Homo sapiens: one gene and its partners. The protein of the gene in region 2 purifies or fractionates together with the protein of the main gene of each other region. This does not show direct contact. Each region holds a gene or a part of one and is shown on either strand. Other genes may lie near its edges. The genes, in order: UBR3, AHDC1, TRIM68 and CBX1.

Evidence for each region.
Region 1: the proteins of AHDC1 (region 2) and UBR3 purify together in Homo sapiens (affinity purification with mass spectrometry; 3 studies listed by BioGRID and IntAct, with this or other methods). This does not show direct contact.
Region 3: the proteins of AHDC1 (region 2) and TRIM68 purify together in Homo sapiens (affinity purification with mass spectrometry; 2 studies listed by BioGRID and IntAct, with this or other methods). This does not show direct contact.
Region 4: the proteins of AHDC1 (region 2) and CBX1 purify together in Homo sapiens (affinity purification with mass spectrometry; 4 studies listed by BioGRID and IntAct, with this or other methods). This does not show direct contact.

Annotation. Positions count from the first base shown.
Region 1 is NC_000002.12:170,075,144-170,082,874, reverse strand, and holds part of UBR3 (E3 ubiquitin-protein ligase UBR3), read right to left. Parts: intron 5,408-7,731; exon of another isoform or gene 5,272-5,407; intron 4,974-5,271; exon of another isoform or gene 4,488-4,973; intron 3,062-4,487; coding exon 2,852-3,061; intron 2,331-2,851; coding exon 2,191-2,330; intron 1,150-2,190; coding exon 1,032-1,149; 3' UTR 1-1,031. UniProt on the Homo sapiens protein: E3 ubiquitin-protein ligase which is a component of the N-end rule pathway. Does not bind to proteins bearing specific N-terminal residues that are destabilizing according to the N-end rule, leading to their ubiquitination and subsequent degradation.
Region 2 is NC_000001.11:27,593,771-27,601,501, forward strand, and holds part of AHDC1 (transcription factor Gibbin), read right to left. Parts: intron 2,312-7,731; exon of another isoform or gene 1-2,311. UniProt on the Homo sapiens protein: Transcription factor required for the proper patterning of the epidermis, which plays a key role in early epithelial morphogenesis. Directly binds promoter and enhancer regions and acts by maintaining local enhancer-promoter chromatin architecture.
Region 3 is NC_000011.10:4,604,885-4,612,993, forward strand, and holds the start of TRIM68 (E3 ubiquitin-protein ligase TRIM68), read right to left. Parts: upstream 3,348-8,109; 5' UTR 3,143-3,347; intron 678-3,142; 5' UTR 621-677; coding exon 195-620; intron 1-194. UniProt on the Homo sapiens protein: Functions as a ubiquitin E3 ligase. Acts as a coactivator of androgen receptor (AR) depending on its ubiquitin ligase activity.
Region 4 is NC_000017.11:48,098,479-48,105,361, forward strand, and holds the start of CBX1 (chromobox protein homolog 1), read right to left. Parts: upstream 3,001-6,883; 5' UTR 2,790-3,000; intron 2,709-2,789; exon of another isoform or gene 2,277-2,708; intron 1-2,276. UniProt on the Homo sapiens protein: Component of heterochromatin. Recognizes and binds histone H3 tails methylated at 'Lys-9', leading to epigenetic repression. Interaction with lamin B receptor (LBR) can contribute to the association of the heterochromatin with the inner nuclear membrane.

The DNA of each region.
Region 1 (7,731 bases), on a different chromosome or scaffold from region 2:
AGGGTCATCACCACTGCGCCTTTTTTTTCCTTTTAGGAAACCGAGCAGAAATAGTAGTGATTACACTGCACAAATACAATATAGCTGAACCTCTTGAGCTGAAAGGAAGTTCCAAAATTTATGGTTCATTTCTGGGGAAGTCTGAGCATTTCTAATACAATCATATAAACAAAACCTTGTTTGGTAATAAAAGGTGGGCATGCACGGAATCAACATCTGCCCAGTGTATGTTCTTAAACCTCTTGATTTCATAGTAAGATTTGTTATTACCTCTAGTAATTCATCCAACTGAAATGGCAAATTTTGATTTTTAAGGACCCCCCAACCACACATATGCCCCCCAAAATGTACTGTATTATATTAACAGCAGCTATCTACTTATTTTACAGCTATTTCAATTATTTACCTGGGGAGAAGATTTATGAAATTCCTGAGAATGAATTCAGTTTTCAGCAAAGCTTTAAACTTTTAACAGATTCCTCACAATAAGAAAAAATTTTAAAGTTCTACTATTAGACCAACTTTTACTATACAGTATTTCACATAAATCATGTTTTACATTTTTTTCTAATTACATACAGAAAAATTCTCCAATCAACACAAGAATGGCAGAGGAAAAAAGATGCATTATGCTTGGCAGATGCAAATTAAAACACACAGACAGAAAGAAGCAGTAAAATGTCAAATAAATCACACCCACTCTAAGTATCAATGAATAGCTGATACGCATTGTTGGGAGAATCATTTCTGAATGAGTTTGTGAACAAGTTGTGCTTCTTATTAATTGTGCACTTAAAAAATGACCACTAAAGAATAATTTAACTTGTTATTAATGTTCTCCAGATATTAAAAAAAAAAAATTATACCATTAACGTGATTACCAAGCACCTAATTTTGGAAAGGCTTCATAATGTATGTTTTCTTTTTCTCCCTCAGCAAAAGTGTTAATCCCCCAAATTAAGTTAAAGCTTATTGTTGAAAAATAAATTCGTAGCGAAAATGATGATACGATGCAATGCTGAGGTGGAGAGTCACAGCCCATTGTAATGTGGACCCCATCTTTTATTGATGTGATCAAAAGTATGAGAAATCCACTGTTGCTCAAGAACTTTGTATCTTTCCTTACAAATGTAGAGAGGTTTGCCTCGCCTAGAACAAAAAGAAAAAAAAAGTATTAATATCATACACGGAAGATTTCACATGCATTTCTTTCTTCTTTTTTTTCTGAGACAGTCTCTCGCAGTGCAACCTCCGCCTCCTGGGTTCAAGCAATTCTCCTGTCTCAGCCTCTCGAGTAGCTGGGATTACAGGTGCTCACCACCATGCCTGCCTCCTTTTTTTATTTTTTTATTTTTTATTTACTTATTTCTTTTTTGAGACGGAGTCCCACTCTGTCACCCAGGCTGGAGTGCAGTGGCACGATCTTGGCTCACTGCAAGCTCCGCCTCCCGAGTTCATGCCATTCTCCTGCCTCAGCCTCTAGAGTAGCTGGGACTATAGGGGCCCGCCACCACACCCGGCTAATTTTTTGTATTTTTAGTAGAGACGGGGTTTCACCATATTGGCCAGCCTGGTCTCGAACTCCTGACCTCAAGTGATCCACCCACCTCGGCCTCCCAAAGTGCTGGGATTACAGGCGTGAGCCACCACACCTACCACATTTCTTTTTTTACTAGATTCTTTTTTGAGACAGTCTTTCTCTGTTGCCCAGGTTGGTGTGCAGTGGCACGATCACAGCTCACTGCAGCCGCCACCTGCTGGGCTCAAGCGATCCTTCCACCTCCTCCCGAGTTGCTGGGACCACAGGTGTATGACCACCACACCTGGCTTATTTATTTTTATTTTTTTGTAGAGATGAGGTCTCACTATGTTGTCCAGGCTGGTCTCAAACTCCTGGGCTCAAGCAATCCTGCTTCAGCCTCCCAAAGTGCTGAGATTACAGGTGTGAGCCACTGGGCCTGGCCAACGGATTCTTTGTGGCAAAAACCTCACATGGTAATTTGGTGTATTTCATGTTTCCTCAACGTATTGATAGGGACAATAGCTCAAAAACTAGAAATAGCTCTAAATTAATGACTGTCAGAATTTCTTAATATTAAAAAAATTGTAATTACAAAGCCAGGAATAGCATATTGGTTTTCACTGACCAAATTTCAATAAAACACCTGGATATATCCATGAACATCTAACCTAAGATCCCGGTCTTCCTCTCCATGAGCATCCAAATACACGGAACCCCAGAGGCAGAAGCGGTGACCTCGAATGATGATAATTACCGATGCATTGATCAAAAGGAAAATACCTGTTCCTGCACCACAGTTCTGAGAGTGCTAAAAAATTAAAAATATATTAATGAACTTCATAATCAAATAGGCTTTATAATAAAATCAAGAATATATTAATGCCTTCTAAATAATACAGTGATTTAAAAATAGTAAGATTTCATTTAAGTTAAACTTATAACTCCATTCCTAACACTTTATTATTAATACATTAGGAGGTATTTGGGTAAGGAATATCTAGTAAAGCAATTAAGAGCCAACCTAATTCAGAGTCTAGTATCTTCAACAGCACAGATGACTTCTGTTTCACAGCACATTCCAAAGTACATACCATTAAAGGGATAGTAGATGAAAGGAGAACTAGAATTGTACTTAAGGAAGGATTTACTCACTTAAAGCCTCAAAGACTTTCTTTTTTTACTCTTCTACTGGATTAAAAAACACACACAATCCCTATATGTATTATATACTTAATTCAAAGAGTAGTTAATATGAAGAGATGGCTTGACCATATTTTGTGATATGAGATCTGTGTTTTCATAAATTTTGTATTATCTACTATTGCTTACCAGTACACATTCACAGTAACTTTGTTGCTTGCAGCAAAGTCCTTTCAGGCATACAAAAGTACCACACACAAGGCAAACAGCAGGATCTTTAGGAACCTTGGTGCAGACACTACAGGTTTTTCTGTGGTAGTACTGAAAAATGGTGTTATAATTCTCAGGCAACTGTAGTAGGTGTGGTAATTTCCATTTTGACTCTTGGATAAGCAAGGCCTAAAACATTATCCAAAAATATTCATTAGTTTTATGTATTTAAGTCACTAACACAATATATTTTTTAAATGTATTTTTACAGAAAGAAAAATCTGCCTCCAAGAATGTGGCTTATTTTCTTTATTAACACTCCTCTCATTTCCATCTTATACATGACTAAAATAGTAGTTCAACAGTTACCATTATCTAATGTATTATAGTTTCCAATTACAGTATGATTTAATTTTTTAGATTAAGCACCTTAAAACATTTAAACTTGTTATTACTTTAAAAGAAAAACACCATCTCTAAGCATGCAGGGAAAATACATCTAATTGTATTTGACTTTAAACATGCATAGTGCAAAGGTTTTTAAAAGTTACGTATTTTTTAAAACCAAGTTTTGATCATTCTCAAACAATTCTTTAGCTTTTTCTTTAGGACAGATCATGGTTATAACTCATTTTTTCTACTTTAATACTTTATAATGTAGAATTGCTTTCCTAGAGTATGTACAATTCATTGCACCTCAAGCTGTTAAGATCTTTTATATCCATAAGTGCTGGGCTACAATTCTTTTCATAAATGTCTTGCTATAAGAATAAAAAAATTGTCAAATTAGTTAAATTTCCCTGAAGGGTATGCTTTATTAACTATTTGCAGCTGTATAAAAATACTGGCAGCAGCACTAAATTTTTCTAGATGCTACTCCATTCACACTTAAAAAAGATAAAATGTAGAGTGAGTCTATTATCTTAAGAAACTGTAAGTAATAGTCAATTTAAATGGAGATCATCTCACATTACCTACATGCAGCCATAATCCACCTAAATCAGTGGAGTAACTAAGCTAGCTTGTTCCTCATCAACAAGTTCATGGATTAAGTGTCCATGGAAGCAATGATAAGAACAGTATACAATACATCATTTGCCAATACTCAGCACCCAACCCTGGACTCCAAGGATGGCATTCTGTAATGAGTTGATTACAGTGGAACCCTTCCATTAAAGGGAAGGGATAACAATTTGTCCTCACTGAACTTGACACTTATTATAGGTTAGGCTGCATGTTATCCAGTAGCCCATAGCACATTACCTCCAATAATTTCCCTCATGAAGAGAGATGTAAGGCAACAGGTGGATGTCCATGGAATTCACTGATCTTAACATATATTCAATCATCTGAAAAAAGCTGTGGTATTTTAAATCATGAACTACAAAACTGATTTTTTCAGTGCCACAAAAATTATGAAATTCATGAAATTTACAAACTTTTAGATGGCACCAGCTGGAAGAAATCACCTACAGAATGTGTATGCTCTAAACAGCAACCAGTATATATGGGTGACCTTTTTCACAATTGGAATGCATATGTATGGGAAACAAGAGGTGGAAAGTATTTAACAGCTGTAACACCTCTCATGATTACACCTAAAATTCGGTCTTGCCTTTCCTGTTGCGGCCTGTGTGGAGTTCACTCGTGGGTCTCTGAGACCCAAAAATTGAGAGCATTTTCGCACCCCAGGGGCTGCGCCTGTGCCATGCCACAGATCAAATATATTGAATTACACTGTAAATGCCATGGATATCATTTGGATTACCATGAGAAAAAGGGAAAGAAGGAAAGTTGAGAGGCTTATGAACATTCAAAGAAGTCAAAGAAAATGATTGGTCTGAAGGCTAAGCTTTATCTTAAACAGCACCATGCTGAGAAAATACAAATGAAAAAGACCATCAAGATGCATGAAAAGAGAAACACCAGACAAAAGAAAGACTCCACAGGGAGCAGTACCTGCCTATCTGCTGGACAGAGAGGGACAACCTCAAGCTAACGTACTTCCCAGTATGATTAAGCCGAAATGAAAAGAGAAAGCAGGAAAATGGAAAGTCCCTCTGTCTAAATGTAACTTGCCCAGGGAGATACAGAAGTGTTAAGAGTTATTTGAACAGAGCCAGGTGCAGTGGCTCATGCCTGTAATCCCAGAACTTTGGGAGGCCAAGGTAGGCAGATCATTTGAGGTCAGGAGTTCAAGACCAGCCTGGGCAACATGGTGAAACCCTGTCTTTACTAAAAATACAAAAATTAGCTGGGCATAGTGGCAGGCGCCTGTAATCCCAGCTACTCAGGAGGCTGAGGCAGGAAAATCACTTGAACCCAGGAGGCTGAGGTTGCAGTAAGCCAAGATCGCTCTACTGCACTCAAGCCTGGGCAACAGAGTGAGACTCTGTCTCAAAGTTATTCCAACAGGAAAGAGAAAGACGCAGGCATAGAGGAGGATGGTTACTAAAGTCTGCTTTGTTGGAGATGGCTTTACAAGAAAACTACTTATCTATGGAAGATTCATCAGGCCAATGGGCTTGCGTTTCAAGAAAGCCCATGTAACACATCCTGAACTGAAAGCCACCTTTTGCCTAACAATACTTGGTGTAAAGAAGAGTCCCTCATTCCCAATGTATATAACTTTGGATGTTATTACCAAAGGTACTGTTACTGAGGTGAATGTGAGTTGGGCCTTGTGACACAAGGAGGCAAGGTTATTTGGGGAAAATAGGCTGTGGTTACCAACAATCCTGAAAATGATGGATGTATAAATGCAGTCTTACTGGTCTGACAGCACTTTCATAGATATTTATTGAAGACTACACACCAACTGAAAAAACTGCCATTACTGTGATGTTTCTGAATACTACCAAACAGCCTTACATGTCTGCAATCAAGAGATTTATTAAATTGTAAACATTAAAATGGAAAAAAAAATTCGGTCTTAAATTTCTGCTTCACTGCTATTCCGGACTCTTCTGCGGATTTACAAGCTATGTACTGTCTAACCTCTAGTACGGTTTATAACATCACAAGGGTGGCTTATCGCATTGCCTGGAGGGATTGACCATGACTATCAAGAAGAATAAAAATATTGCCATACAATTGGTAGAGCAATATTTTGGAACTTAAAAACCCCTACCACCACCCCTACCATAGACCAAGCTTGAAAGGCAGAAATTTAACACAGAATGATTACAGCCTTATAGAAACAAAGACAGGACCAATCACCAGAAGCTCAGCCCTTTCAGAATAAAGTTTGGTATCACATCCTTGCTCAAACAAATCCAATCATCCGTTGAGGTGTGCTGGATCACGGATGGTAAAAGAAGAAAGTCATATATATTTGACTGTATATTAGCTGCAGCTTTATGACTACTTGCAAATCTTGCTTACTGTATCATATATCTTTGCAACATTTTCATTCTCTTACTATTGAATTCAGGGTGAGCAGGTACTAATTAAAATTTTCCAGGCCATCTGGGTGTGAGTACAAATGACAGGAACAATGGACATCTCTCAGAGCTACTGGATGCAGAGAGGCCTGATGATGTAAGGACTATATGTGACATCAGGTTGCTTATTTGGGAAAGTCACAGATGCATTTGCAGTCATAAGTAAAATGGTTACATCATTTTCAACAGCAGAAGTGAAACTGTGAATGAGAAGAAGGGTGTGTATGAGCCAGGCAGGTAAGATGTGAAAGTAGTGGGCCACTAGTTTGTTTTTTAAATCCTCCTAGCATCCTTTGCTGCTTTCTTATATTAATAACATTATAAGTTCTTTTAGAAAATAACCCCTTTTCTTGCTCCGTACAGTTCTGATGGGGCTGTCCCCAACACAAGATCCTGCCCCACCACTGGGGTATATGTATTACAACAGTTAGGCCAACCAGATTCTCTCTCCCAGGAATCTGAACCTTGAGCATGCAAATTAAAGGAAGGAAAATGGTTGAGGCTTAGTTATCTGGTGGCAGCACTTCAGAGAAAACAGAGCAGAGATATTTGTGGTTTCTCTTCTTCCCAAGCGATGACAGTTAAGCTCTTCAATTCTGCAGGTTACCAAGTATGCTTCCAATGAATCCTGTTTTTTTTTTTTTTTCTGTCATAGTTTGCTTTGGTTTTCCTTATTTTAAATCAGAACTGGATTTTGTTGTTCCCAAACAAAGAATCTTAACTGATAAAAAAATTCAGAAGTAGTAATTCACAGACAGTTTTTCAAGGGTAGTACTGTTGGACTATACAGCTCCTGTCACCATTTACCCTGCTAAGTCTCGCTATACAGATTTAACATTCCTGAGAAAGAGAATCTGGTTGACCTAGGGTCAGGATCAGGGTTAGGAACACAAGAGTGGAGCAGGGACACAAGGGGGAATACAGGTCAAATGGTGGTGTACTTACATAACTGGCAAAAATTCTGCATTAGCATAAATTAATAAATTAATCAAATGTCTACTACACTGCCTCTACAATAATTATCACCTAATTATATGAAAAGATTAAATATTTTAAAATGAAAAATTCTTATTTTCCATCAGCATACATACAATAATCATTCATCTAAAATGTAGGCTTGATTTTAACCTATGGCTCATATGAAGACAAACTCTGGGTGTGCTCATCACTTTTTTCCCTGCCTTGGTTCTACAATTATACCCCTCTTACTCCATGTCATCCTGCATAGGTTTTCAGACATCAAAGTATGATGTCAAATTATTGCTATATGCTCTGTGAATAAAGAAATTACTAGACAGGAAGATATTTGTATATGTAATATGCAAGATTCAATTAACTTGAATTTCCCTTTTTTTTTAAAAAAAGGGTATAAAATGAGATAGCATCTTTTTAAGGATTTCAGCAAAAAATGGAAAA
Region 2 (7,731 bases):
GCTCCCCAGGGCACAAGAGGCAGGCAGGAGATCGATTCACTGAATTTTTTAAGGCCCTAATGGAGCCTGCATCCCAGGACTTGCTGGGCTGGGACACAGGCGATGTCTTGGGGACCCTTCCCACAGCACTGCAGTTGCTTCTTCTTTAGGGTCTTGGGGATCAGTGGAGCCCTTCTGTGAGCCTTCCCTCAGCAAGAGAGGAGGCACGAGGGACCTCTAGGAAAGAGAAGGGATTTGGGGGCTGTGAGCAATACCCAGAGCCCCCCTATCTCCCCAGTCCTAATGCAGGCAGAAGCAGCTCAGCCTCTAAATCACTCCCCTCATGCTGCCCTCTGAGGCGGATTCTGTGCATCTGTAATTAGGGGGTGGAACAGATGGTGGAGATTCCGTTTAAAATCATGCATCTAGTAAAGTAACCTTCACTGTCGGAACTGACTCCCAGGGAGACCAAGCCCCGCAGCCTGGATTTGGGGGTGGGGGGTAGTATGTCAATCCAGCACCTTCCCCATCCCTCTCCCTGAAGCCCCAGGCCCCATGTCCCTCTCAGGTGAGCCAAGGGGTTGGGGGAGGGAGGCAGTGATTTGGCAAGCACTTGAAAAAGTGTGGGCTGGGGGCAACTCCCCCTGTCCCTCTCTCCCACATACATGCCAGAGCCAGGGCAGGGCTGGGTACTGAGAGTTCCTGGCTGAAAGACCAGGATGACCAGGTGCCAAGGGGCTCTGCCCCCACCCCAAAGAGGCCCCAAACCTTTAAGCCCAGGCCAGGGTGCCCAGAGCACAGGGTCTTGGGTGGGGCAGCTTTGAACCAGATGTCCAGCCTCACTGTCCAGGAATGAAAGGCCTGGGGCGGTGAAGGGGTGGAGATGCCTCCCCAGGCAGAGGAGGCTCTGGGAAGAGCGGGAGGCCTGGGCAGCAGAGAGAGAGAGAGCGAGAGCACACAAGAGTGAGCAATGTGTGTGACAGGCTGAGGCTGTCTAGGGGAACAAGGTGGGGGAGAGGGTGTGCTGGAATGTGCCAACGGTGGGAGTGAGGGCTGCAGAAGGATTAGGCGGGGTATGTGACAGGGTGCCGTGGGGTGCAGGCGGAGCACAGAATGGGTGCAGGGTTGTGACTAGCTGAGGCTGTCTTTGTGTACAGGTGTGGTATCGGGGTGTTTGGAGAGGTGTAGGGGTGTCCCTGGGCCCTTAGGTGGCTGAGGAAAAGTACCGGAGCTGAGACTGTCTGGGAAGCGGTGGGGCCGGGCCATTAGGACTGCCTGTCGAGGAGGTGCCGGGATCCAGGAGGCAGTGTGCACAAGTTTCAGGAGGTATTAGAAGCTTCGGGGCCTGATCTGTTAGAGATATACTAGAACCGAAGCCATGTCTGTGTGTTTGAGGCAAATGTTGTGGCTACAGAGGGTGTTCTTGTTTGAGTGGGTGTTTGAAGCAGTGAGTGTATGTGTGTTGTAGGGGGAGGCTGTATGTTTGGAAAGGTATAGGGGATGATACCGGTGTTTGGGGAAGTGCTGAGCTATAGCTGGGAGAAACGTTGGGGGCTGTGGGCAGAGTGTGTGTGTCTGGGGAGGTGTCAGGGCTTTGAGGGTATGAGTCAGTGGGAAGGTAGCAGGGCTGTAGCTGGGTCCTGGGTGTATCTGGCAGTGTTGGGGTTGGATAGGGGGTTGATATGCTGAGGGTGTGATAGCTGTGTGTGTGTGTGTGTGTGATTGTGTGTGTGTTGGGGTGTTTAGGGATGTATTGGGGGGTCATAAAAATGTGGGTTTTGGTTAAGTACTAGGGCTGTGAACATGTGCCTGGAAAGGTGTTGTGGTTGGTGGAGGATGCACTGTGGTTTTGGGGAGGAGCTGGGGAGTGTCTCTGGAAAGGTTATTGGGATTTTAATTGGGTACCTGCAAGGGTCTGGGGAGGCGTTAGAGACCTGAGGTCCCTCCATACGTGGGAAGGGAAGAATGGGTCTCTGATATCAGAGATGTGCCACAGGCTATCGTCCGTGCATGCACAGGTATGAGGGCTGTAACCAGGTTCCTGGTGTCAGGGAGGTGTTGCAGGTTGTGGGTAAGCATGTGGTGGTTGTGTGTTTGGGGGTATGTGCATGTGAGGTAGCTGGATGTCGGGGGGTATCTGTATGTAGAGTGTGTGTGTGGAAGTGTGTGGGCTGGGTGTTGTAGGTGGAGCAGTTGTGTTTTAGAGGTGTTAGAGCTGTGAGTGTGTATGTGGGGCAGTTGTCTATTTAGAAGGTGTTGGGAGCTGTAACTGAGTCCCTGGACCCCAGAGAGGTGATGGGGCTGCAGGGTTTGTGTGTGTTAGGGGGGATGCCCCTCTGGGAGAATGAAGGGCAGCATCCTGGCCTTTGCTCCGGGGCCTAACTGGGGGCTACCCGCTAGAACCCCTATGGTATGGGGTGCCTGTGCGGGGGTGTTGAGACAGGCAGTCCATCTGTCTCAGCCTGTGCCCAGGCCCAAGGAGCAGAGCTGCCTCCTCGCTCCCTGGGGGGCAGCAGCGGATCCAAGCCCACCCATCTGCCTTCAGATGGTCGAGGCAGGAGCCTCCACAAAGCTGCCTGGAGGGCAGCACTGCGTTTGAAGAGACACAGGCTGGGGGTGGGGGAACTGCACAGCAAACAGTCCTCACGGAGGCTCCTTTAAAAACCACTGACGCCAGAAGAGAGGAAGAGGGAGGACAGGGGCGGGTATGTCTGTCCTTGTGCATCTGTGTGGGTCAGTGCCCAACTTCCAGGCCGGGGGCCCCTTCCCACGTGCTTGTGCTGGATGTTCCTGTTCAGGTAGCACTCAGGCCTTGGAAAACACTGCTCCAATCCAGGCAACAGGCTCCCAGCCTCACACCTGAACTACACCCTCATATCTGCATAGTCCCTACACTCACACGCACTCATACACCTTCCCACATGCATGCCTGCCACTGCACGCTCACACATGCAGTTTGCCCCATGCCCTTAAACCTTCATATATGTACCCCCATCACACATACCCCACCCTGCAAAACCCACAGTTACACACACCCATCTTACACACACACCTATCACATAAACGTGCATCCACACATACATACCTGACAAGTCACTCTCACACACACACCCACACACTCCACACACCTTGGAGCTCCCTGTCACACCCGTACCCTATCTCACATACACCCAGTCTCTCTCACACTCCATGAGGACACTCGCCATCCCTTCTACCTGCACATGCAAGCACATGTTTATACACATATGCCTCACCACCTTTGAGACAGCTCCCCACTACCCAAGCCACTGGGCATTTCTCTGTGTCCAGGTCAGGCCCTGAAGCTTTCCAGAAGGGCTCTCACCGACTGAGAGGACCTTCTGCCTCCCCACCTTGCCAGCCGGGTTAGAGTATGGGGGTGGGGGGCAGGTGGCAGGGGGAGGTTCTGTGTGCTCTGGTGTGACTGCCACTGTATGTAGGAGGGTGTCCCATGACAGGGCCTGTGAGTCAACACCTGTACAGGGAAGGAAGCACAGGTGCGTGTTCACCAGCTATGTTCGTGAGATGCAGAATGAGTGTGAGGGTGGAGATTTACATGTCACAAATTTGTGTGTGTGTGTGTGTGTGACAGTGTGAGAGTGTGTGTGTGAGAGAGAGAGAGAGAGAGACGCAGGGCCTGTGTAGACAGGTGTGACCGTGGGGGCTGCGTTTATACGAGGGGCATCCCCCGGGTGAATGTGAGGGGGTGTTTCCCAAGACAAGAGAGGTGCACATGTGCATCTGGTGCAGGGGTCAGGGCTGCAGGCCTCTCAGCAACCCCCTCCCCCTATGAAAAGAGGAGCAGGGAGCAAGGGGCTCTGGGCGGCTTCTCTCTCTTGCTCTTTCTCCCTGACCTCTTTAGCAGCTGGAAACTGAGCCGGGGGTGGAAGGAATGGAGACTTGGCTGGCCTGGGGGTTTGGGGAGGGAAGAGGGAGAAAACACCTTCCAGATTCTCATCAAATCCCTGTTTGTGGTTTGCAGCCTGCAGTCTTCTCCCTCCCTCTCCCTCCCTCTCTCTGTCTGTCTGGGTTTCCCCCTTTCTTTATCTCTTCCTGTCTCTCAGCCTCCCCATCTCTCTCCTTCTCCATCTCAGTCACTCTGTCTCCTTTCTTTTCTCTAAGTCTCTGTCTTCCATTTTTCTGCCTCCTCCTCTCTCTGCCAGCACCTCTGTCTGTCCGTCTCTCCCTGTCCCAGTCCATCTGTCCGTCTCTCTCCGTCTGTCTGTGTGTGGGTGTCTCTGTCCATCTGTTTCACCACCCATCTGTCTGGCTGTCTGTGTTAGTCCTTCCAAGGGTGCCCACTCGCTCCCCAAGGCACCCTCCCCCAGGTCAGCAAGGCCTCTCCTGGCTCAGGGGGTGGGGAGGGGGTGCAGAGCTGCAGCTTCTGGAAGCTTCAGTGGCAGCTGGGCTGAATTGGGAGTTCGGGGCCAGCCAGCTGCAGAAGCAGCCCCTCCCCTGGGCTCCCAGGCCAAGGACCCCAGAGCAGAAGAGGAGAGAAAACAGGGCCTCATTGCAGTTGGGTTTGTGTGTGTGGTGGAGGGGGCTGGAAGGGGGCTGGAGGGAGGCAGGGCCTCACTTTACTCTCACTTCACCATTGCCCCCGGAGCCAGGCCCTGCAGGAGAGGGATCCTTGATGCCCACCTTCCTCATCCCCTGGCCAATGGAAGAGATGCTGGGATCCAGGAGGGAGGGGCCAGGAGAGGCCAGGCCTTGGGCGAAGGAGGGGCTGGGAGCCAGGGCTTCCTGTCAGCTGGGCTGGAGGGGGGCTCCTTCCCTCCTCCTTTCCAGGCAGTCCCTGGGGACCCCTCCTGCTCTGGTCCCAGTTCCAGGCATGAGGGGTTGTTCTTGCCAACTGCACTGGGGCCATTCCCACCTCCATCTACCCATAGGGACGTGGGGGGATCACACCAGTGTCACCCCCACAACAGTGGAGGCTGGTTTTGGCCATGTAGTGACCCTGGCCCTGTCTAGGCACTGGCCATCCTGAATCTAGCACCTCACACACAAATATATACAGTGCATCCCAGTGCTCACCGCCTGCCCAAGCCCCCCAACACCAGCATCCACCGTCATGACATGAACGCAGAGACCAGCACCCTACCTTGCACTGGTGACAGCGCCCCCGTCACAAAGCCAGCAGCTTCAGACAGCATCCCTTAACATTCTCCCTGGCTACTCTGTCCCTGTCCCCCACTCCCTCTCCAATAGCTCACAGTCCAAATCCCACAATGGATGGGGAAACTGAGGCCCAAGAGGAAGGGATGGGAGGACACAGTCATCCCTCCTGAGACCCTGGGGTAGGATCATAAATGAGGAAAGAAGAAAGAGATGCTGCAGGGGCAGAATCAGGCTCCTTCCTGACCTACCATGGGTAAAGTCCATATTGGCTACACCCTCCACACAGCCCTACCACAGGGCCAGGGCCAGGGCCAGGGCCAGGGGCTGGCTCCCTCCCTCTCGAGCTCTCCTTGCCCCTGGTTGGGCCCCCTCCCTCTCCTCCCTTCTGAGCAGCCCTCCCTGCCCTCTCCCTCCCAGCTCTGGCTCTCTCATCCTCAGCTCTTGGAAGCCTGACTCACTGTTTCCCCTCCTCTCTCGCCTCCCTCCCTCTCTCTCCCGGCAGCAGCGGCGCCTCCCCCTCCCCTGGGGGGGCTCTGGCCACAAGGGTGCCTGCCTGCTTCTCTCCCCAGGCTCCGGCCCCCTCCACTCCCAGGAGGCCCCCTGCAGCTGTTCCAATTCTCTAACTACAGTGAGGTGGAGTGCAAACAGCCCAGGTCCCAGCCTGGTCTTGCCAAAGGTATCTGTGACCCTGAGCAAGTGGCTCCTCTCCCTAGACTTGGCTTTCTCTCGTCAAACAAGTGGGGGGCGTCCAACTGGATGATGCTCCTGGCACCTCTGGGACCCTAATGTTTCCCGCTTTTATAACCTGGGTGTCTTTTGGCACAGAGCACCTGACAACCTGTAGGGTGCAGTACCTGCCACAGGCCACGCCCCCCCGGGTCCCAAGAAAAGCTCAGCTCTGTTCCAGGCATTTGGGGAGGGCAGAAGGGAGATGCTACCCTGGGACCTGAAACATTTGTTGAAAACCCTGGAATCTGTCTCCCCATTCTCCCTCCTCCTGTGAGAGTCTCTCTCTCTCTCCCACCTGTCCTCCTCCCTCTTCCCAAACATCTGCTTGTCTCTCCTCCAAAAACAACCCCAGAATCTGATCTTGGGTGAGAGGACCTCAGGGCTGCCTCCTCTCTGGCTCCAGGGAGGGGAGTGGTATATTCCTAGGCCTTCTTGGTCCCCGGCCCCCACCTCCAGGGGCTGTAATTCCAGATTTTCTTGCCTGTTTTCTCTTTCACTCTCATCACTGGCTTTGGTCTCCATCTTTCTCTCTCTTCACCATGCATGTGGTTGTGGGTCGCTCCCCCGCCCCCCTCCCTGGGGGGGGCCCATCTGCAGGCATTAGCAACAATGTTACCCTTGCTTCCTCCCATAGTCCCCAGCTCCACTCCATCCTGGCTTCCGCCTCCCCACTCTGTCCCAAGAGACCCAGGGGACCCAGAGACAGAGCTGGGCTCCATCCCATAATAGTGAGTCTGCTTGACCTCACCAAGCCAGACCAGAAGGGCCTGGGCATCTGGTACACAGGCATGGCACCCCCTGGTCTTGGGTGGCTGGCATGAGACACAGAGCTCTGTGTTCTACAAACCAAAAAAAAAAAACAAAAAAAATTGAAATTGACCTGGGGGTGGGACAGAAGAGGGGAAGGGGGAAATGAGGGAGATCAGGTTTGCCTGGAGGAAGCCCCTGTCCAATGGGGAACAGAAGCATAGAGGTGGGAGTGGTTCAAAGTCAGTGCTCCAGGCTGATTGGAGAACAACAATGTCCCTCTGGGGCTCTGCCAGTCCAGAACAGCTCCCCCTACCCAAATGTCTTCTGCCAGGGGCAGTCTGCCCCTCAAGCCTCCAGCACAACCACAGCAATCAGGTGGAGACCCCATCTTTTAACCTTTTGAATCCAAGTCCAACTTCCCTACTGTACACCTCCACTTAGCTCAGCAGGGGGTTCCAGAAGCCTCCCAGCCCAGATCTAAGCCCATGCAGTGGGGGTAACAAAGTCCCCCAGCTCCCAAACCCCTTCCCCAAAGGCCCCATCAAGGGCTGGGGAGCAATGCAAAATAACCCCAGAACCCTCACGCATTGAAACTGAGAAGCTATGCTGTCCCACAGCGCCTGAGGGTGGTAGGGGCTCCCTGCCCCCACGACCCTGTTCCAGACCCCCCAGCCCAGCAACAATAATAAACAGCAAGCTCTTTTTCTTTATGACACCAAATTTCTCCAAGCCCAACAGCTCCTTCCATCACTACCTCAGCCATAGATCACATTAAAAACTCACAGAGGGCAACTTAAACACATCACATTTGTTTCTCTCTATATTATTTCAAAAGTAACGGCATTAAAAATGGATTTTACTACAGAAAATAAATATCGGCACGTGGGCTGGGAGCCCAGGCGGAGGAGAGCGCCCACCAGGGGAACGTTCCTGAGGGCTTGGGCACAGTTAGGCACTGACCAGACTAGAAAGGCCAGACTACACCTTGGGCTTGTGGGTGATTCCTGGGGAGGGGGCAATGCCTGCCCACCTGGGCATCTGCCCCAAAGCCAGATGAAGAAGGACAACTCACTGGTTTGGGCTGGTAGCCACTGGTCCCCCAAAGCTTATGCCCTTACTGGTCTTTGCAACCCCTGA
Region 3 (8,109 bases), on a different chromosome or scaffold from region 2:
GAGAGCAGGAAATCAAGGAAGGTCATGAATACAAGGAAAGGTATAGCTCTCTGTATCAGATTCCAGGGATCTCTGGGTGTCAGGAACCAAAGGAGTTAGCTCTCAGTCTGTGGTGCTGGTGGTCAAGCCCTTGATCTAGAAACAGCCAACTTGGGGCCGGGGTTAGACTGGAGTGGCCAGCTTCCATCTCTCACCTTGTACTCCCAGGCAACATCCTCCATTGGCACAACACTGTGGGCCTCATGCTCTGGGGACTGGCTGCAGGCCTCACACATTATCAAGACATCCTCTTTGCAGAACATCTTCAGCTTTTCCCCATGGCGCTCACACAGGTCACCCTTCAGCCCCATTCCTGGATGTAGCCTTAGCAGACGGACTTTTTCTACAACATTGGCCAGCTGCCAATTAGGCCGCAGGTTCCTTGGCTGGACAGGAGCTCGACAGAGGGGACAGGTGTAACCCCAGTTCTGGGATTCTCCTGGGATCTCCCAGAGTCCAGAGAGACAGCTGTGGCAGAAGCTGTGGCCACAGTCAATGCTCATGGGCTCCCTCAGGAAGGTCATACAGATGGGACAGGCCACTTCTTCCACAATGGCTTCCACCAAGGCTGTGGGATCCATGGTTCCTTCTCACACCCTCCTCAGAACATGAATGAAACCAGGGAGAAGTAGTAAAGGCTGAGAAGAAGAAAAGAAAGACAAATAAGAGAAAAAGGTAACAGAGGAACAGAGAGATCAGTAACAGGAATAATTAATTTCTGGGGGAAAACCACCTTCCTTTTGACCCTTTACTGACCTTCTTTAATAAGCATTGGCCTTTCCAACTGAAGGGTGCATGGTCTGAACGGGCCACATTACTCATACCATGAAGGGGATAATGGGGATGCCTAAGTGAGTGAATATTGGGAGTCCTCGGTTTTCATTCACTTGGTCAACTCTGATTTTCCTCTGGGTTTGCTCTACTTGACCATTACCACTCCAATCATGCTCTACAAATCAGCATTATTTCTCTTAAACTTGGGTAAGTTCACATAAAATGTGGTATTTCAGTATCTGAAGTAAGGCCATAAATACCTCCAGCCTCACTCTCTGGTATGTTTATATTTACATTAATATAATTCAAAGTGTCAAAAGGTAGTATGCCAGAAGCCCATTGCCTACAAGCTCAATTTGTTTTCTTGTGTTGCACACTAAAATGCAAAAACTGTAAAGGAAACAGCAGTTCTTTTCCTGTGCCTTTTAAACCCCTGCCCACTGCTCCAGCACTAATGTACTTATTATTCACCAAGATGTCAAGGTAGTCTTCTGAGCTTTTAGTGATATGCTAGAAGCAGAGATGAAATAACATCCCTTGGAGATTAAAACAAAGATCATTTGATGATCATCACACCCATATTGATGAAATCACTACACCAGCAAGAAATCTGAGATTTTTGCCAGGGCCACATATGGGCATGGAACTTGGTCAATGGCAGGCTCTTGGCTCAGTTGGCAATATTTATTCATTCACTTTGCTAGTTTGTGTTACCAGCTAGAATCTATACAAGGAAGGGACATGTTGATCCTAGTTCCTGTTGTATCCTCAGCACCTAAACAGCACCTGCAATGCAGATATTGCTGAGTAAATATTTGTTGAATGAATTAACCAGCTAGACATAGGAAATAGTTCCTAAACCCAAAATCCTTTTAGCATTTGTGAGGTAAATTGAGAGCATACATTAATAATAAAAGCAAGCACTCTTTGAGCAGTTCTATGATGTGCCAGGCACTGTTCTGAGCACTTTACATGAATTAAGTTGGTTTATTTCACAACCCTAGGCAGAGGCCATTATTGTTCTCATTTTACAGATGTTTGGCTTGGGGCTCTGCCATCTATCTTGGGCAAATTTCTTAACCTCTTTAGCTTTAAGGTATAATACAAATTCAAGAGGAGAGAAAAATCACTGTGGTTTAGCGCAGTCCAGTAGCAGGAAGCAGGAAGCAGAGCAGTAAATCTTGCAGGACTCTGATATGCCATTGGCAGGGCATGCCTTCTCACTAGACTCCCTGCCTCCTGCTTTTCTTCCTCCCACTATCACTACCAAACTGTGGGATCCAGTATCCTAAAACCTCATTTTGGTAAATCACTAACTTACTAAATAATCTATCCTGGCTCCCGGTTAACAAGATCTCTCCTTGAAACAGCACCTGTGCCCAGCTAGGCAAAGGAATAAACTTCCACACACTCCCGCAAACCCCTCGTCCATTCAATCTACCTGACTTGGGTGCCTGCTATTCTCCCAGCTGAAAATGACTTCTACATGATCCTGCCTTTGACGTCATTTGCCATGTATTCGTCTATTGTCTTACTTCCCATACTAGAACTTTTTCATGTGGATAGGGTCATTGTCTGTTTTGTCCATTTCTATTTCCCCAGTGCCAAGAACAGTGCCTCAAATACTTGTTGAATACGTGAAAACTAAATGTAAATGTTGAGTTCCAACCGATAGTAGATTGAAAGTGGAGGATGTGTTAATATCCTTAGCTAAGTCAGTAGAGACATTAAGAGACACCATCTAAAGTCAATAAAACAATAAATGGAAGTTGATACCCATTATTTAAAGCTACAAATGGAAGACCTAAAATAGCGATGGAAAATTGACAAGATTGTGGCAGTAAGAAAGTAAGGCAAAGAAATATCAAAATGATAAATCCAGAAATACAGTGGAACGCATATTATTTTGATTTAGGGTGCTAAAAACATCTAAATGGGGACAAACTAAAAGTGGCAGCCTCTGCAAAGATCTGGGGATGGGTAGTTACTGCTCTTCAAAATAAGACCTGCTTTAATGTTTGACTTTTTATTATACATGAATTACTTTGAGAAAATTCAAATAATTAAACGTTCGGTTGCTTTGACTGTGCCTTCCGTAGGGTACAGCGAGAGTCTGAGAAGGGCATTTGAGAAGGGGGCGGGGCCTGGAAGACTTCCAGTTAGGACCCCAGCGGGAAGGGAGTCGAGGGGCGGGCGGTAACCTCCGGAGTCAGGGAGCAGCTCCTGGCCTGGCCACAGGGCGTTGGGCAGGTCCCCAGGACAGCGGGCGGGTGGGGGTAAAGTGAGCGTGCGGGATCTGACTTCAGAAAAGGCAGAGTTATCTACCCACCTCCCTCCTCGGCCCGGACTGGCGCTTCGCGGCGGAAACTCAAAGTGAAGAAGCCTGGTTCCGCAGCGTCCAATGGCCCAGCGTCAGAAGCTGCCGTTCCCGGCAGCTCAGCACTTAGGGCCAGAGAGCGGCAGAGGCCCAGAACCCAAAGCCCGGCAGCGCAGGCCCAGTAGCCCGCAGCTCCCAGAATACTACACCCGGCTCTAGGCCCCGCTCGCGGGACGGCAGCCAATGAGCGGCCGGCTGGGCCCAGGTTGGCTTCGCCCAGGGGGCGGTGTGTTTGTGGGGGCAGCCAATCACAGGCAGGGACCAGGGTACCCCTAGCCAATTGGTGATGAGACGGGGGTTTCGGCGCTTCTAGGCATGTCAATGTTTTTTCTCTACTTCCTGGGTTTTTCTGGTCCCTTCACCGACTCAGATTCCCTTAAACTGTAGAGGGTTCTAGGAGTTAGTTCTAGGATAGGTCAAAGGATTGAGGCTCCCAAATGATGCCGCTCAGGCACTGCATTAAGAGAGGCTCAGGTGGCTATTCATTTGCCAGTTTGACTTGTTAAACTCAGAAGCCTGAGATTGGCCAAGTCTGGTTCTGTGACCCATCTTAGCAAAGGGTTGGGCGCACATATGGTGTGGACTCTGCTGTTCCTGGCAAGATTCGCGACCTCTCATGGTTCCAGGCTTTAAATACTGGGTTCTTAAACAAAACAAAACAAAACAAAACAAAACCCTCTCTTTTTTCGTTTTTACTTCAGCAACCAGCTTGTCATCACTATTGCCACAATCCACTTTTAGAGTGAAAAACAGACAACAGAGACCGGGAGTTGATGGAGAAATGGAAACCCTGGTCAAAAATTGTCATTAAAAAAGGAAAAAAAAATTAAACAACTGGTATCCCTTCCTCACCCAAACACATAGACACATGCACGCACACACAAAAACTGTTACTTAAGACAGTGATATGGGTTTTTCTTTGTACTCCCAGGGCCTTGTCCTTCTCTTGACACTTAGGTTTTAATAAGCAAGTGAAGGCACCTCCTATCCGCATAGAAAATAACCAGGAAATCTTCCAATTGAAGCTCGGTTCCAAATTATATAATATCTTAATTGTTAGGACAGATACTCCAGAATGCTCATGCCAGTGTCTGAGCCCCGGCCATGGTTAAAATTCTGAAGGGTGAGGCCCAGAAATTTCCTGCAACAAATAGGTCTATGAGAAAAAACAAAAGTATCTTAGGTCTGAGCTGTACCCTCTGTCTCACCCAGTTTTGGAGAAATGGCTGCTCTAATAGAATAATGAATGGATTAATTGAAATAAGCCATTTTAAACATTTATTTAACATCAATTTTCTTGACAATATTTTACTGGGTGCTGGGATTACAACTATGGGACATATAGTCTCTGCCTTTAAGGAGCTGAAGGTCAAGTTGGTTGTACTGCTCTGGAATCTCTGTGAAGTTAAAACAGTTAATGGGGAGATCATTTTCATGTGTAAGGTGCAATTTGTAACTATGACGGACTGTCAAGAACCCTGGCAATCAGGGTAGCTGGGGGTGGGGGCTTGCGTTCATGTGGGGAAGGCTGGAGAGAGGGCTTTTGAAGACAGACCAGTTTACTTCCAAGGCATAGAAGCTTTCCTTTACAGATGTCTTCAGAATGTTTTGTTTGTTTCTTTATTTGTTTGCTGTGAGACAGGTGTGTCCAGGTGAGGCTCTGTCGTGGACAAATTCCACAGCTGTAGCTGCAGACCCCAACCCTCTGCCCTGAATCCAGGATAGACCAGGACAACAAGATGAGTGGCTAACTGTAGGATGGTGTCCATCTGTGCTCTAGGGGAGGAGTAGCATCAAAGGAGAAGCAAGAACTGAGAACTGTTTGGGGCACTGAAGAAGTAGGACTAAGGAAGAGTTAGGGGGTTAGTACAAATCTGAGGCCTGGTTTTCTGGAAAGAGACCAGAGACTGACCTTATTGCATGTCATACAACATGCTTGCTTAGAGACCCCTAATTTATTTTCTTCTCTTACTCTTTCTGAGGAAGCATGAGCCACACCCTCAGTTAGTTTTGTATAATCTTAGGCTTGATGAGAATATAATCTTAGTCTTGAAGGCTTTAAAGGGGAAGAAATAGCTGTCTGTGTTAGTGGTGTGTCAGTCAGCAGGAGAACCTGCTAGGGGTGGAAGGAGGAGGGTAGGAGTATAGCCTAGACCATGAGTAGATACCCCGCTCCACCTTGAAAGTCTCCTACTGGACCTCTTATGATGGAGTTAATACCTCCTGTTTCCTCTATTCCAGATTGTTTTCAGTTTCCAGAAGGCAAAACTGACATCTCCCAGGAGTCCAAGTAGGAGATTAGGGCCTCCCGTCCCTATCTACTCAGTGCTAGCCTTGGCTAAGAGAGAGGAAATTCCTGCCTAGAGGGGAAAATCTGCAGGACTTCGTTACCACTTTCACTTTGGCAGAGGAAGGAGGTCAGGGATGGAAGGGGAAGTGAGTCTAGAAATTAAAACATAGAATTCTGTCTACAGGTGGTGGAGAGCCTTTCTGAAAGTGCTTCTGGGTTGAGGCTGTCACCTAGATTTTATATTAGAGTTTAAGTGTTCCAAAAAATTAAGAAGCAGGAAGTAGAAAAGAGAGAACAATTTCAGAAGCAGACGAAAGGAACAGTAATAGGAAGATCTAGCAAGGATGTGGTGGGGCAGTTTCAGTGTGAGATGCCATGGACAGGAAAATGGCAGCATATGTGTGTGTGTGTGTGTGTGTGTGTGTGCATGAGACAGAGAGACATAAATAACTAAATAAAAAGGTATATATCAGAATATAGATGTATATTACAATAGCAATTGTTAATAGTGACACACAACTAACAGTAAGACTTTTGTACAGTGGGAAGCAGAACAAGCCAAATGCTGTTATTAGTTTTGATATCAGAGTTGCATTAGATTAAAACAAGAAGAAGTAGCTTTATATGTCCTTGTATTTGATGTCTAATTCAAGTTCTTTAAATGTCGAATCTGTTTCAGTAAGTTACTATTCTCAAAGTATCAGTGTCTCCATGGTTATGAACAATTACACAAATAATTATTTTTATTTTTATTTGCCATTACTTTGAGTTTTTTTCTTGATTCTAATCCCTGATATTATATATTTACCACTACTTTATGTTTTTTTTTCTGAGTGACATATCTTTCTTTCCAAAGATCTGTCTAATTGATTGTTCCTTTCAAAGAACCTGTTAATTTGTTATTTCAATTTTTTTCTGATTTTATCTTTATTATTTTTTCTTGATTTATTTTACTTATATTTATTGTCTTATTTTTCTTGCTTCTTGCATTGATTGAGGAGTGTAAAGTTTTCCCTAAATATAAGTCAGGCTATATACCATAAATCATCTTGGTGCTTTCGTTATCATTTGTTATTAAAAAAATTATTAAGCACAGTTTCAAATTTGCTTTTCTCTTGAAATTACTTAATTAAATTGAAATTCTCTCTCTATATATATAATTTATTTAGGTTTGTTAGCATTTTATAACCACAATGCAATAAGAGTTTAAAAAATGCCATTATAACTTATCATTTGGGAAACTGTTTTGTGGCCAACTATATAATTGCATTATATAATTGTTCAGAAGGTACTGGAAGAGAAGGCATATTCTCTATAGTGGAAAATACTAAATTATATAGTCTTCTTATCAGAGTGTAAAATGTGTTTGTAGGGATTTGGCCTAACTCATTGCCACGTGAATAGCAGACAACTGAGAGAAGAGCCAGTCAATCAAAATGCCTACTAAAAACAAGAGTTGAAAATGCCAGAAACCTATTTTAAGCATAAAAAGGACTTATTAAAGAACATTTGGTAGTCCATTGATGATGTATGCAGGAACATCATCAAATTACCCCATAGGTCCACTCTGATGGAACTACCACTACTGGCTCCATTGAGCATAGTCAACTAGGATCTCACTCCTAAACCTGGGTGCAGAGACTGACACTAGAATCTCTGCCTCTGATATCTCTGGAAGATTTACTCTTCTGTCAGCACTCTTCACCAGAATGATTCAATGTGGCATTTTGCTTTTATTTTCCTAGCTTCTGAATTGGCTTCCTGGAGGTGTGCATGATTGACAGCACTTAGACAAAATGCCTTCTCCCATGGTGGGTGATTATTCCCATCTATTTTCTCCCTTTTTGTGAGGGGGACATACAATCTCATCCATTGCCTCATGACTCACAGTGCTTCCCGATAGCTGGAGAATGCTTTCTAGGACATTATGAGACTTGGCTATATGACCATCTTGGGTCGTTGAAATAGGAATGGAGGGAAGTGTTTCAGTTCCATAGAGAAGCTCTAAGAGACATTTCATGTTTGTACCACCTTTTGTTGTTTTCTCATTGTCACAATAAAGGCATATCACAAAGAGGGGCTCCTGCTTCAGCTTGAGTCCTGGATGCAAAGACATGTGGACTGGGATCCTAGCAACCTATCTGCAGCCAAGGACATGACGTGTGAGTGAAAACATTTGTTGTATGCCCCTGAGATTTTGGATTTTCTGTCATGGTATGAAAGCTGATTAATTAGGTAGGAAGGTGACTTCTATGGCTTTTCTTTGGGAGAAGTAGACGCCCCAAGAAAAGGAAAATTGGTCAAACATAGGAAGAGCACTCAAGTGCCAGCTACAGTGAATGACAAATACCCACCACAAGCACAAGCTCTACATTCACAAAAACTTGGAAAACACAAGTAAGTCCTCAGAACAAAACATGGCTACCACATAGTATAATAGCTCATTCCCTAGTCAAAGAGAAATTTAGATCCACATTGCCATCACTGGCCACAGTCCTTAAAGAGAATTATAATGCTCTCTGGGGAGAGACCAGAAAGGAAACACAAGGGGAAAAAACAGGATTGATGGTTTCAGGTTTTCAGAACTGTTTTATTTGTCAGTTGGTGTCTATCGTTTGGTGTCTAGAGC
Region 4 (6,883 bases), on a different chromosome or scaffold from region 2:
AGAGGTGCGTCCCCATTTTTTCATTTTTCTTTTTTTGAGACAGAGTTTCGCTCTTGTTGCCCAGGCTGGAGTGCAATAGCGCGATCTCGGCTCATGGCAACCTCTGCCTCCCGGGTTCAAACGATTCTCCTGCCTCAGCCTCCCAAGTAGCTGGGATTACAGGTGTGCACCACCACGCCCAGCTAATTTTGTATTTTTAGTAGAGATGGGGCCAGTATGGCTCCATTTTATGGGAGCCCATAAACTAGCAATTAGCCTTCTACACCAGAAACTCTTCGTGGAAAGAACCTATGAAGTGAAAATCTACCAAATCTAATGCAAAATCTCTTACACCACTGCAGATAGGATTTTTTTTTAAAAAAGGGAGGTTTTGCTAGATAAACCACTAGAGGATGCCAAAATTTAATGAATTATTTTCAAATGGTGTGAACAACAAAGAGAAACATTTTCCTAGTCCTTAAAATGGGCACAAGAATGAGTGCTATCTTTCTTTAGAGGTATAGTTTGTAAGTTATAGGTATCCTGTATTCAGAAATGCAGAAGACCAGGGTAACTTACTTACCACTAGGCTTCTATTTACATTCAAAACTATTTATTTCACACACCATCTATCTACCTATCATCTATCTTTTCTTTTTTTTGAGACAGAGTCTCGCTCTGTTGCCCGGGCTGGAGTGCAGTGGTGCAGATCTCGGCTCACTGCAACCTCTGCCTCCCGGGTTCAAGCGATTCTCCTGCCTCAGCCTCCCGAGTAGCTGGGACTACAGGCATGCGCCACTAGGCCCAGCTAATTTTGTATTTTTAGTAGAGACAGGGTTTCACCATGTTGGTTGGCCAGGATGGTCTCGATCTCTTGACCTCATGATCCGCCCACCTCAGACTCCCAAAGTGCTGGGATGACAGGCTTGAGCCACTGCGCCCGACCCTACTATTTATTTTTTTAATGAGAAACAATTTAGGATACAGCAGCCATTGAAGAAAAATATCACCACAGGGAAAACCGTAAACGACTTCAGGTCCTCCACTCCCGTGAAGCTTCATTAAGGTGCCACCGGTTTCAATACAAGTGCTTTTCAATCACACCACTTTCATATAAAAGTCTATAAGGCACCTAGGGAGGAACACCGGCATTAATTTCCCCATTGTATTCCTGAATCTATTCCAAAGCCTTGGACCTTTCACAATCTTTCCAAACTGCTGATGTGACTCTTAACACAATTGAGGAGGCTACTTTACCCTGGGCTAGGGGTTCTAGTATATAACTGATTATAGCTGAACTTTTTGTAAATTCCACCTCAATTGCGTTAAACCAACACGTCTAAATGTAACACCAATTTATGAAAAACCCTCATTTGAAACTTTGAAAAAGAGGTAAAATATGGCCAGGCGCAGTGGCTCACGCCTATAATCCCAGCACTTTGGGAGGCCGACGCGGGAGGATCACGAGGTCAGGAGTTCGAGACCAGCGTGACCAGTACGGTGAAACCCCGTCTCTACTAAAAATACAAAAATTAGCCGGGCGTGGTGGCGTGTGCCTGTAATCCCAGCTAGTCGGGAGGCTGAGGCAAGAGAATCGCATGAATCCGGGAGGTGGAGGTTGCAGTGAGCCAAGATCGCACCACTGCACTCCAGCCTGGGCAACAGAGGAAGACTCTTCTCAAAAAAAAAAAAAAAAAGAGGTAAAATATAGCTCACTCTATTCAAATTTTCCAACAAGGAAAAGCTGGCTAAAAACAGAAGGGCCCACGAAACAAATATTACCTCACAATCTCACATAATTTTCCTATGTCTCCCAATTTCTCGCACCTCACACGATCTCACAATCTCTCACTACCTCACGCCGTTCCTCAACTATTAACTCATCTACATATTTTTACAATTTCATCACCTTTGTGAGACCAGTTACGATCCCACACAAAAACGTACGGAACTAATTTTGAATCAAAGCAAGAACTGCACTTGGACTTTTTTAACTCCCCAAAGGAATCATGGAGTGAAGGTAGTAGGAAACCTGGAAAACTGAAAAAAGCGTATTCCATCCTTTCTTCGCACATTATTCTTACAGCCTCCCCACTGTAAGGACCCATCAGGATGCAAGGGCGGCCTGCTTTCCCCTTTTTTCTTACATACCTTATAGAAATATTCTCGGGATCTCCGCCCTACTTATCCTAACAGCTCCTCCCCTTCCAGAGTCAGGCCCAGCAAACGCCTGCCCCTCCCCCTCCGTGTCCCCTTTCCCAATTTATTCCACACATCTCCTCCTCCAATCAGCACACCTTGTGCGGCCCTGGGCCCTCTTCCAATTCACTCGACGTTACTCCTCCGTAGTCCTGCAAAGCCAGGTTCCTCTGGCAGTCCCAGCCGGACCCGGCGTCTTCCGAATACAGTTACAAACCTCGGGTTGTGCGGTCGTATGCGCCTCCTCACGCCTATCCAAGCCTCAAGCCTGTCCCCTTCCGCCCTATCCCGCAGCCGCCCAGCCAAGCAACATTGTTCCAGACCACCCGGGCCCCGAAGAGCGGCCCCCAAGTGCTCGGCCCACCCCCAAGCACTCAGTCTCTGGCTCAGGATTCGCGCCCCGCCCTCTCCATCCTTCACGCAGCTGGCACCGACGCCTCAGCGACAGGCGAAGAGCTCAGCGCGGGAAGCGGAGAAGCAGGACGCTGGACCCGGGCGCGCTCCCCGCTCCTAACCTCCGCCTCGAAAGCGCGTTCCCTCACGCAGGGCTCCCGCCGCCGCCGCCGCCGCGCCCCCTCCCCCAGCTCTCCCGCCTCCAGCGGGCTCCTCACCTCAGAGCAGCGCCCAAGAGCCCGAGAGGAATCGGTGCTGCGCTGCTGGCGCGTCGCGTCGGGTCGCCTGGGGGAGTGGCGCCCAGGAAGGCAGCAAGCCGGGTGGCCGCAGTGGCGTCCCTCACTGAAGCGGCGTACCGCAGGCCCCGGCCAACGGCCCTCCCCTCAGCCGAACAAAAGAGCCTCGCAGTCTGCGCTGCCCGCCGCTCGCACCGCGCAGGCGCAACGACCCGCCGCACGGCACCATGGGCCTCGGGGGTCTGTCCAAGACTACAAGGCCCGAAGCGCCGCGCGCCGCGCACGCACAGTAGGCGAGGGTGGTAGGGACTTATAGTTTTTAAACTGTAACGGTGGAGAGATTGCAGCGTAGAGCGTTGTAACCTAGAATATTAGAACATATGGGCCAGGGGCAGTCGCTCACGCCTGTCATCCCAGCACTTTGGGAGGCCGAGGCGGGTGGATCACCTGAGGTCAGGGGTTCGAGACCAGTCTTACCAACAAGGTGAAACCCTGTCTCTACTAAAAATGCAAAAATTAGCCGAGCGTGGTGGCAGGTGCCTGTAGTCCCAGCTACTCAGGAGGCTGAGACAAGAATTGCTTGAACTTGGGAGGCGGAGCTTGCAGTGAGCCGAGATCCAGCCACTGCGATCCAGCCTGGGCGATGGAGCGAGACTCCATCTCAAAAAAAAAAAAAAAAAAAAATTAGAACATATGATTTTTATAAGCGAGCCCCCTGATGCTTGGCCCCCAAAAAATCAACCACTTCTGGACAGTTCTGTAATTCACATCCTCAAAATTTTTGAATCTTAGATTCTTCACCAGAACTTTATCATATCGCCGCTGCCTCAAATTTCCAATGATTTCTTAGTCCTCAATCTCTGCCTCCTCAAATCTCTGTAAAATTCCTACTCACGCCGGCACGGTGGCTCAAGCCTATAATCCCAACACTTGGGGAGGCGGAGGTGGGTGGATCACTTGAGGTCAGGGTTTCAAGACCAGCCTGGCCAACATGGTGAAACCCCATCTCTACTAAAATACAAAAATTAGCTGGGCGTCGTGGCGGGCGCCTGTAGTGCCAGCTACTCGGGAGGCTGAGGGAGGAGAATCGCTTGAACCCAGGAGGTGGAGGTTACAGTGAGCCGAGATCGCGCCATTGCACTCCAGCCTGGGCAACAAGAGCGAAACTTCGTCTAAAAAAAAAAATACTGTTCAGTGTTAAGATTACTTCCCCTTTGAGGTCTTCCCTGATTCCCTAGAGTAGGTTAGGTCCCCCCATAGGCCTCTCATAGCTTCCTGAATTTCCCCCTTTTCACTGGCTGCGCCACAAAAATGTCCTCTTTTTCATTGTAAGTTGTGCTCACCTTTTTCAGTGTCATTAATCTCCGTCAGCACCTTTCACCCAATCATCCCAAGGAAACACACAATTAGGAAAAAAACATGTTTTTAAGCCACAATATAACTAAAGTTTTATTTTTTTATTTTAAAGTATCCTTCTAATCAGGAGGAAGAGGGAAACTCTATTGCACTCTACCCCAAAAGGCAAGAGTTTGCATTTATAAGACAGTTTTGCTGATGCAGGCACTGTTCAGGGCAGGAGTTTGCATTTATAAGACAGTTTTGCTGATGCAGGCACTGTTCACGGCTCTGGAGAACTGTCATGTAAGAAAAACCCAGCCCAGCAATATCATAATAGAGTTTAGTTAAAAGGGCTTCAAGAAAGCACAGAGAAGATGAGAGGTGAAGCCAGCTGGACTTCCTGGGTCGAGTGGGGACTTGGAGAACTTTTCTGTCTTACAAGAGGATTGTGAAATGCACCAATCAGCGCTCTATACCTAGCAAGGGGATTGTAAAATATACCAATCAGCACTCTGTAAAAACACACCAATCAGCCCTCTGTAGCTAGCAAGAGGATTGTAAAATGCACCAATCAGCACTCTGCAAAATGCACCAATCAGCGCTCTGTAAAATGCAGGAATCTAAAAGTAGCCAATCACAGGGAGGATTGAAAAAAGGGCACTCTGATAGGACAGAAATAGCAAATGGGCAGGGACAAACAAGGGTGTAAAAGCTGGCCCCCTGCCCCCCACCCATTCCTGTTAGCCCGCAGCAGCAACCTGCTCAGGTCGGTTTCCACGCTATGGAAGCCTTGTTCTTTCGCGTTCTTTCGCTCTTCACAACAAATCTTGCTGCTGCTCACTCTTTGGGTCCCTGCCAGCTTTAAGAGCTGTTTTTAACACCATGAAGGTCCGCGGCTTCATTGTTTAAGTCAGGGAGACCACAAACCCACCGGAAGGAATCAACTCCGGACACAAAGAGAGCAATTCTTCCTGAAACATTTGGGCTGGGTTTCTAGGAAGAAGCAAGTGAGAAGCAAGCATCTCCTCACTTCCTCCTGTAGTGTACTGTTTTTGACTGATGATGATGAGAAAATTAGTTGTAATGATAATTAGCTACTATTAATGAGTGCTTTTTTTGTTTTTTTTCCCTGAGGTGGAGTCTTGCACTGTCGCCCAGGCTGGAGTGCAATGGCAAGATCACGGCTCACTGCAACCTCCGCCTCCCGGGTTCATGCACTTCTCCTGCCTCAGCCTCCCAAGTAACTGGGATTACAAGTGCATGCCACCATGCACAGCTAATTTTTTTGTATTTTAGTAGAGACGGGGGTTTCACCATGTTGCCCAGGCTGGTCTTGAACTCCTGAGTTCAGGCATCCACCCGCCCAAAGTGCTAAGATTACAGGCGTGAGCCACCACTTCTGGTTTATTTTTTATTTTATTTTATTTATTTATTATTATTATTATTTTTTGAGACGGAGTCTAACTCTGTCACCCAGGCTGGAGTGCAGTGGCATGATCCGGTTCACTGCAACCTCCACCTCCCAGGTTCAAGCAATTATCCAGCCTTGGTCTCCCGAGTAGCTGGGATTACAGGTGCCCACCACCATGCCCAGCTAATTTTTTTGTTTCCCGAGACTGAGTCTTGCTCTGTCACCCAGGCTGGAGGGCAGTGGTGAGATCTCGGCTCACTGCAACCTCCACCTCCCGGGTTCAAGCAATTATCCAGCCTCAGTCTCCTGAGTAGTTGGGTTTACAGTCGCCCGCCACCGTGCCTGGCTAATTTTTGTAATTTTAGTAGAGGGAGGTTTCACCATGTTGGCCAGACTGGTCTTGAACTCCTGACCTCAAGTGGTCCCACTGCCTCCGCCTACCAAAGTGCTGGGATTACAGGTGTGAGCCACCGCACCCAGCCTTAATTTTTGTATTTTTAGTAGAGACGGGTTTTCACTGTGTTTTCAGGCTGGTCTTGAACTCCTAACCTTGTGATCCCCCCGTTGCAGCCTCCCAAAGTGCTGGCGTTACAAGTGTGAGCCACCACACCCGGCCTATTTTTTTTTTTTTTTTTTTTTGAGACAGGATGTTACTCTCTCTCCTAGGCTGAAGTGCAGTAGTGCAATCACGGTTCACTGTAGTCTCAACTTCCCAGGCCCAAGTCATCTTTCCCCCTCAGCCTCCTGAGTAGCTTTGAGCCACACCTTACTCAGCTAATTTTTTCTATTTTGTAGAGCCAGAGTCTTGTCACATTGTCCAGGTTGGTCTGGAACGCCTGGGCTCAAGCAGGCCTTGACCTGTCTCGGCCTCCCAAAGTGCTGGGATTACAGATGTGAGCCACCATGCCTGGCCATAAATTCTTGATTGATTTAATCTCATTTCTATCTAACACCCAAACCATATTTCTGTCTACATAAAATGCTGCCATCCCTAATTCCTTGTATTGAGCTGAATTCTGCTCCCCATGGAGATGCCACCTATTTTCCCTAATTCTGGCATCTGTAGCCACACAGTAAGCCTTATCTTTCTTTCATATGTTTCTTCTAATATTGAAGTTCAGCCATCATGTTCCCTGAGGTCTCTATTTAAATGTCATCATTTTCCTAAACTGTACATTACAGGGCAACAGTTTCAGATGTATCATATTTATTGTGTTAGTAAATTCTGGCTCTTATATGTGTGTTTCAAGGTGGAGAGGGCCATCACTGCCTTTGTCCTGTATACCATTCTTTTTTTTTTTTTTTTTTTTTTTTGAGACGGAGTCTC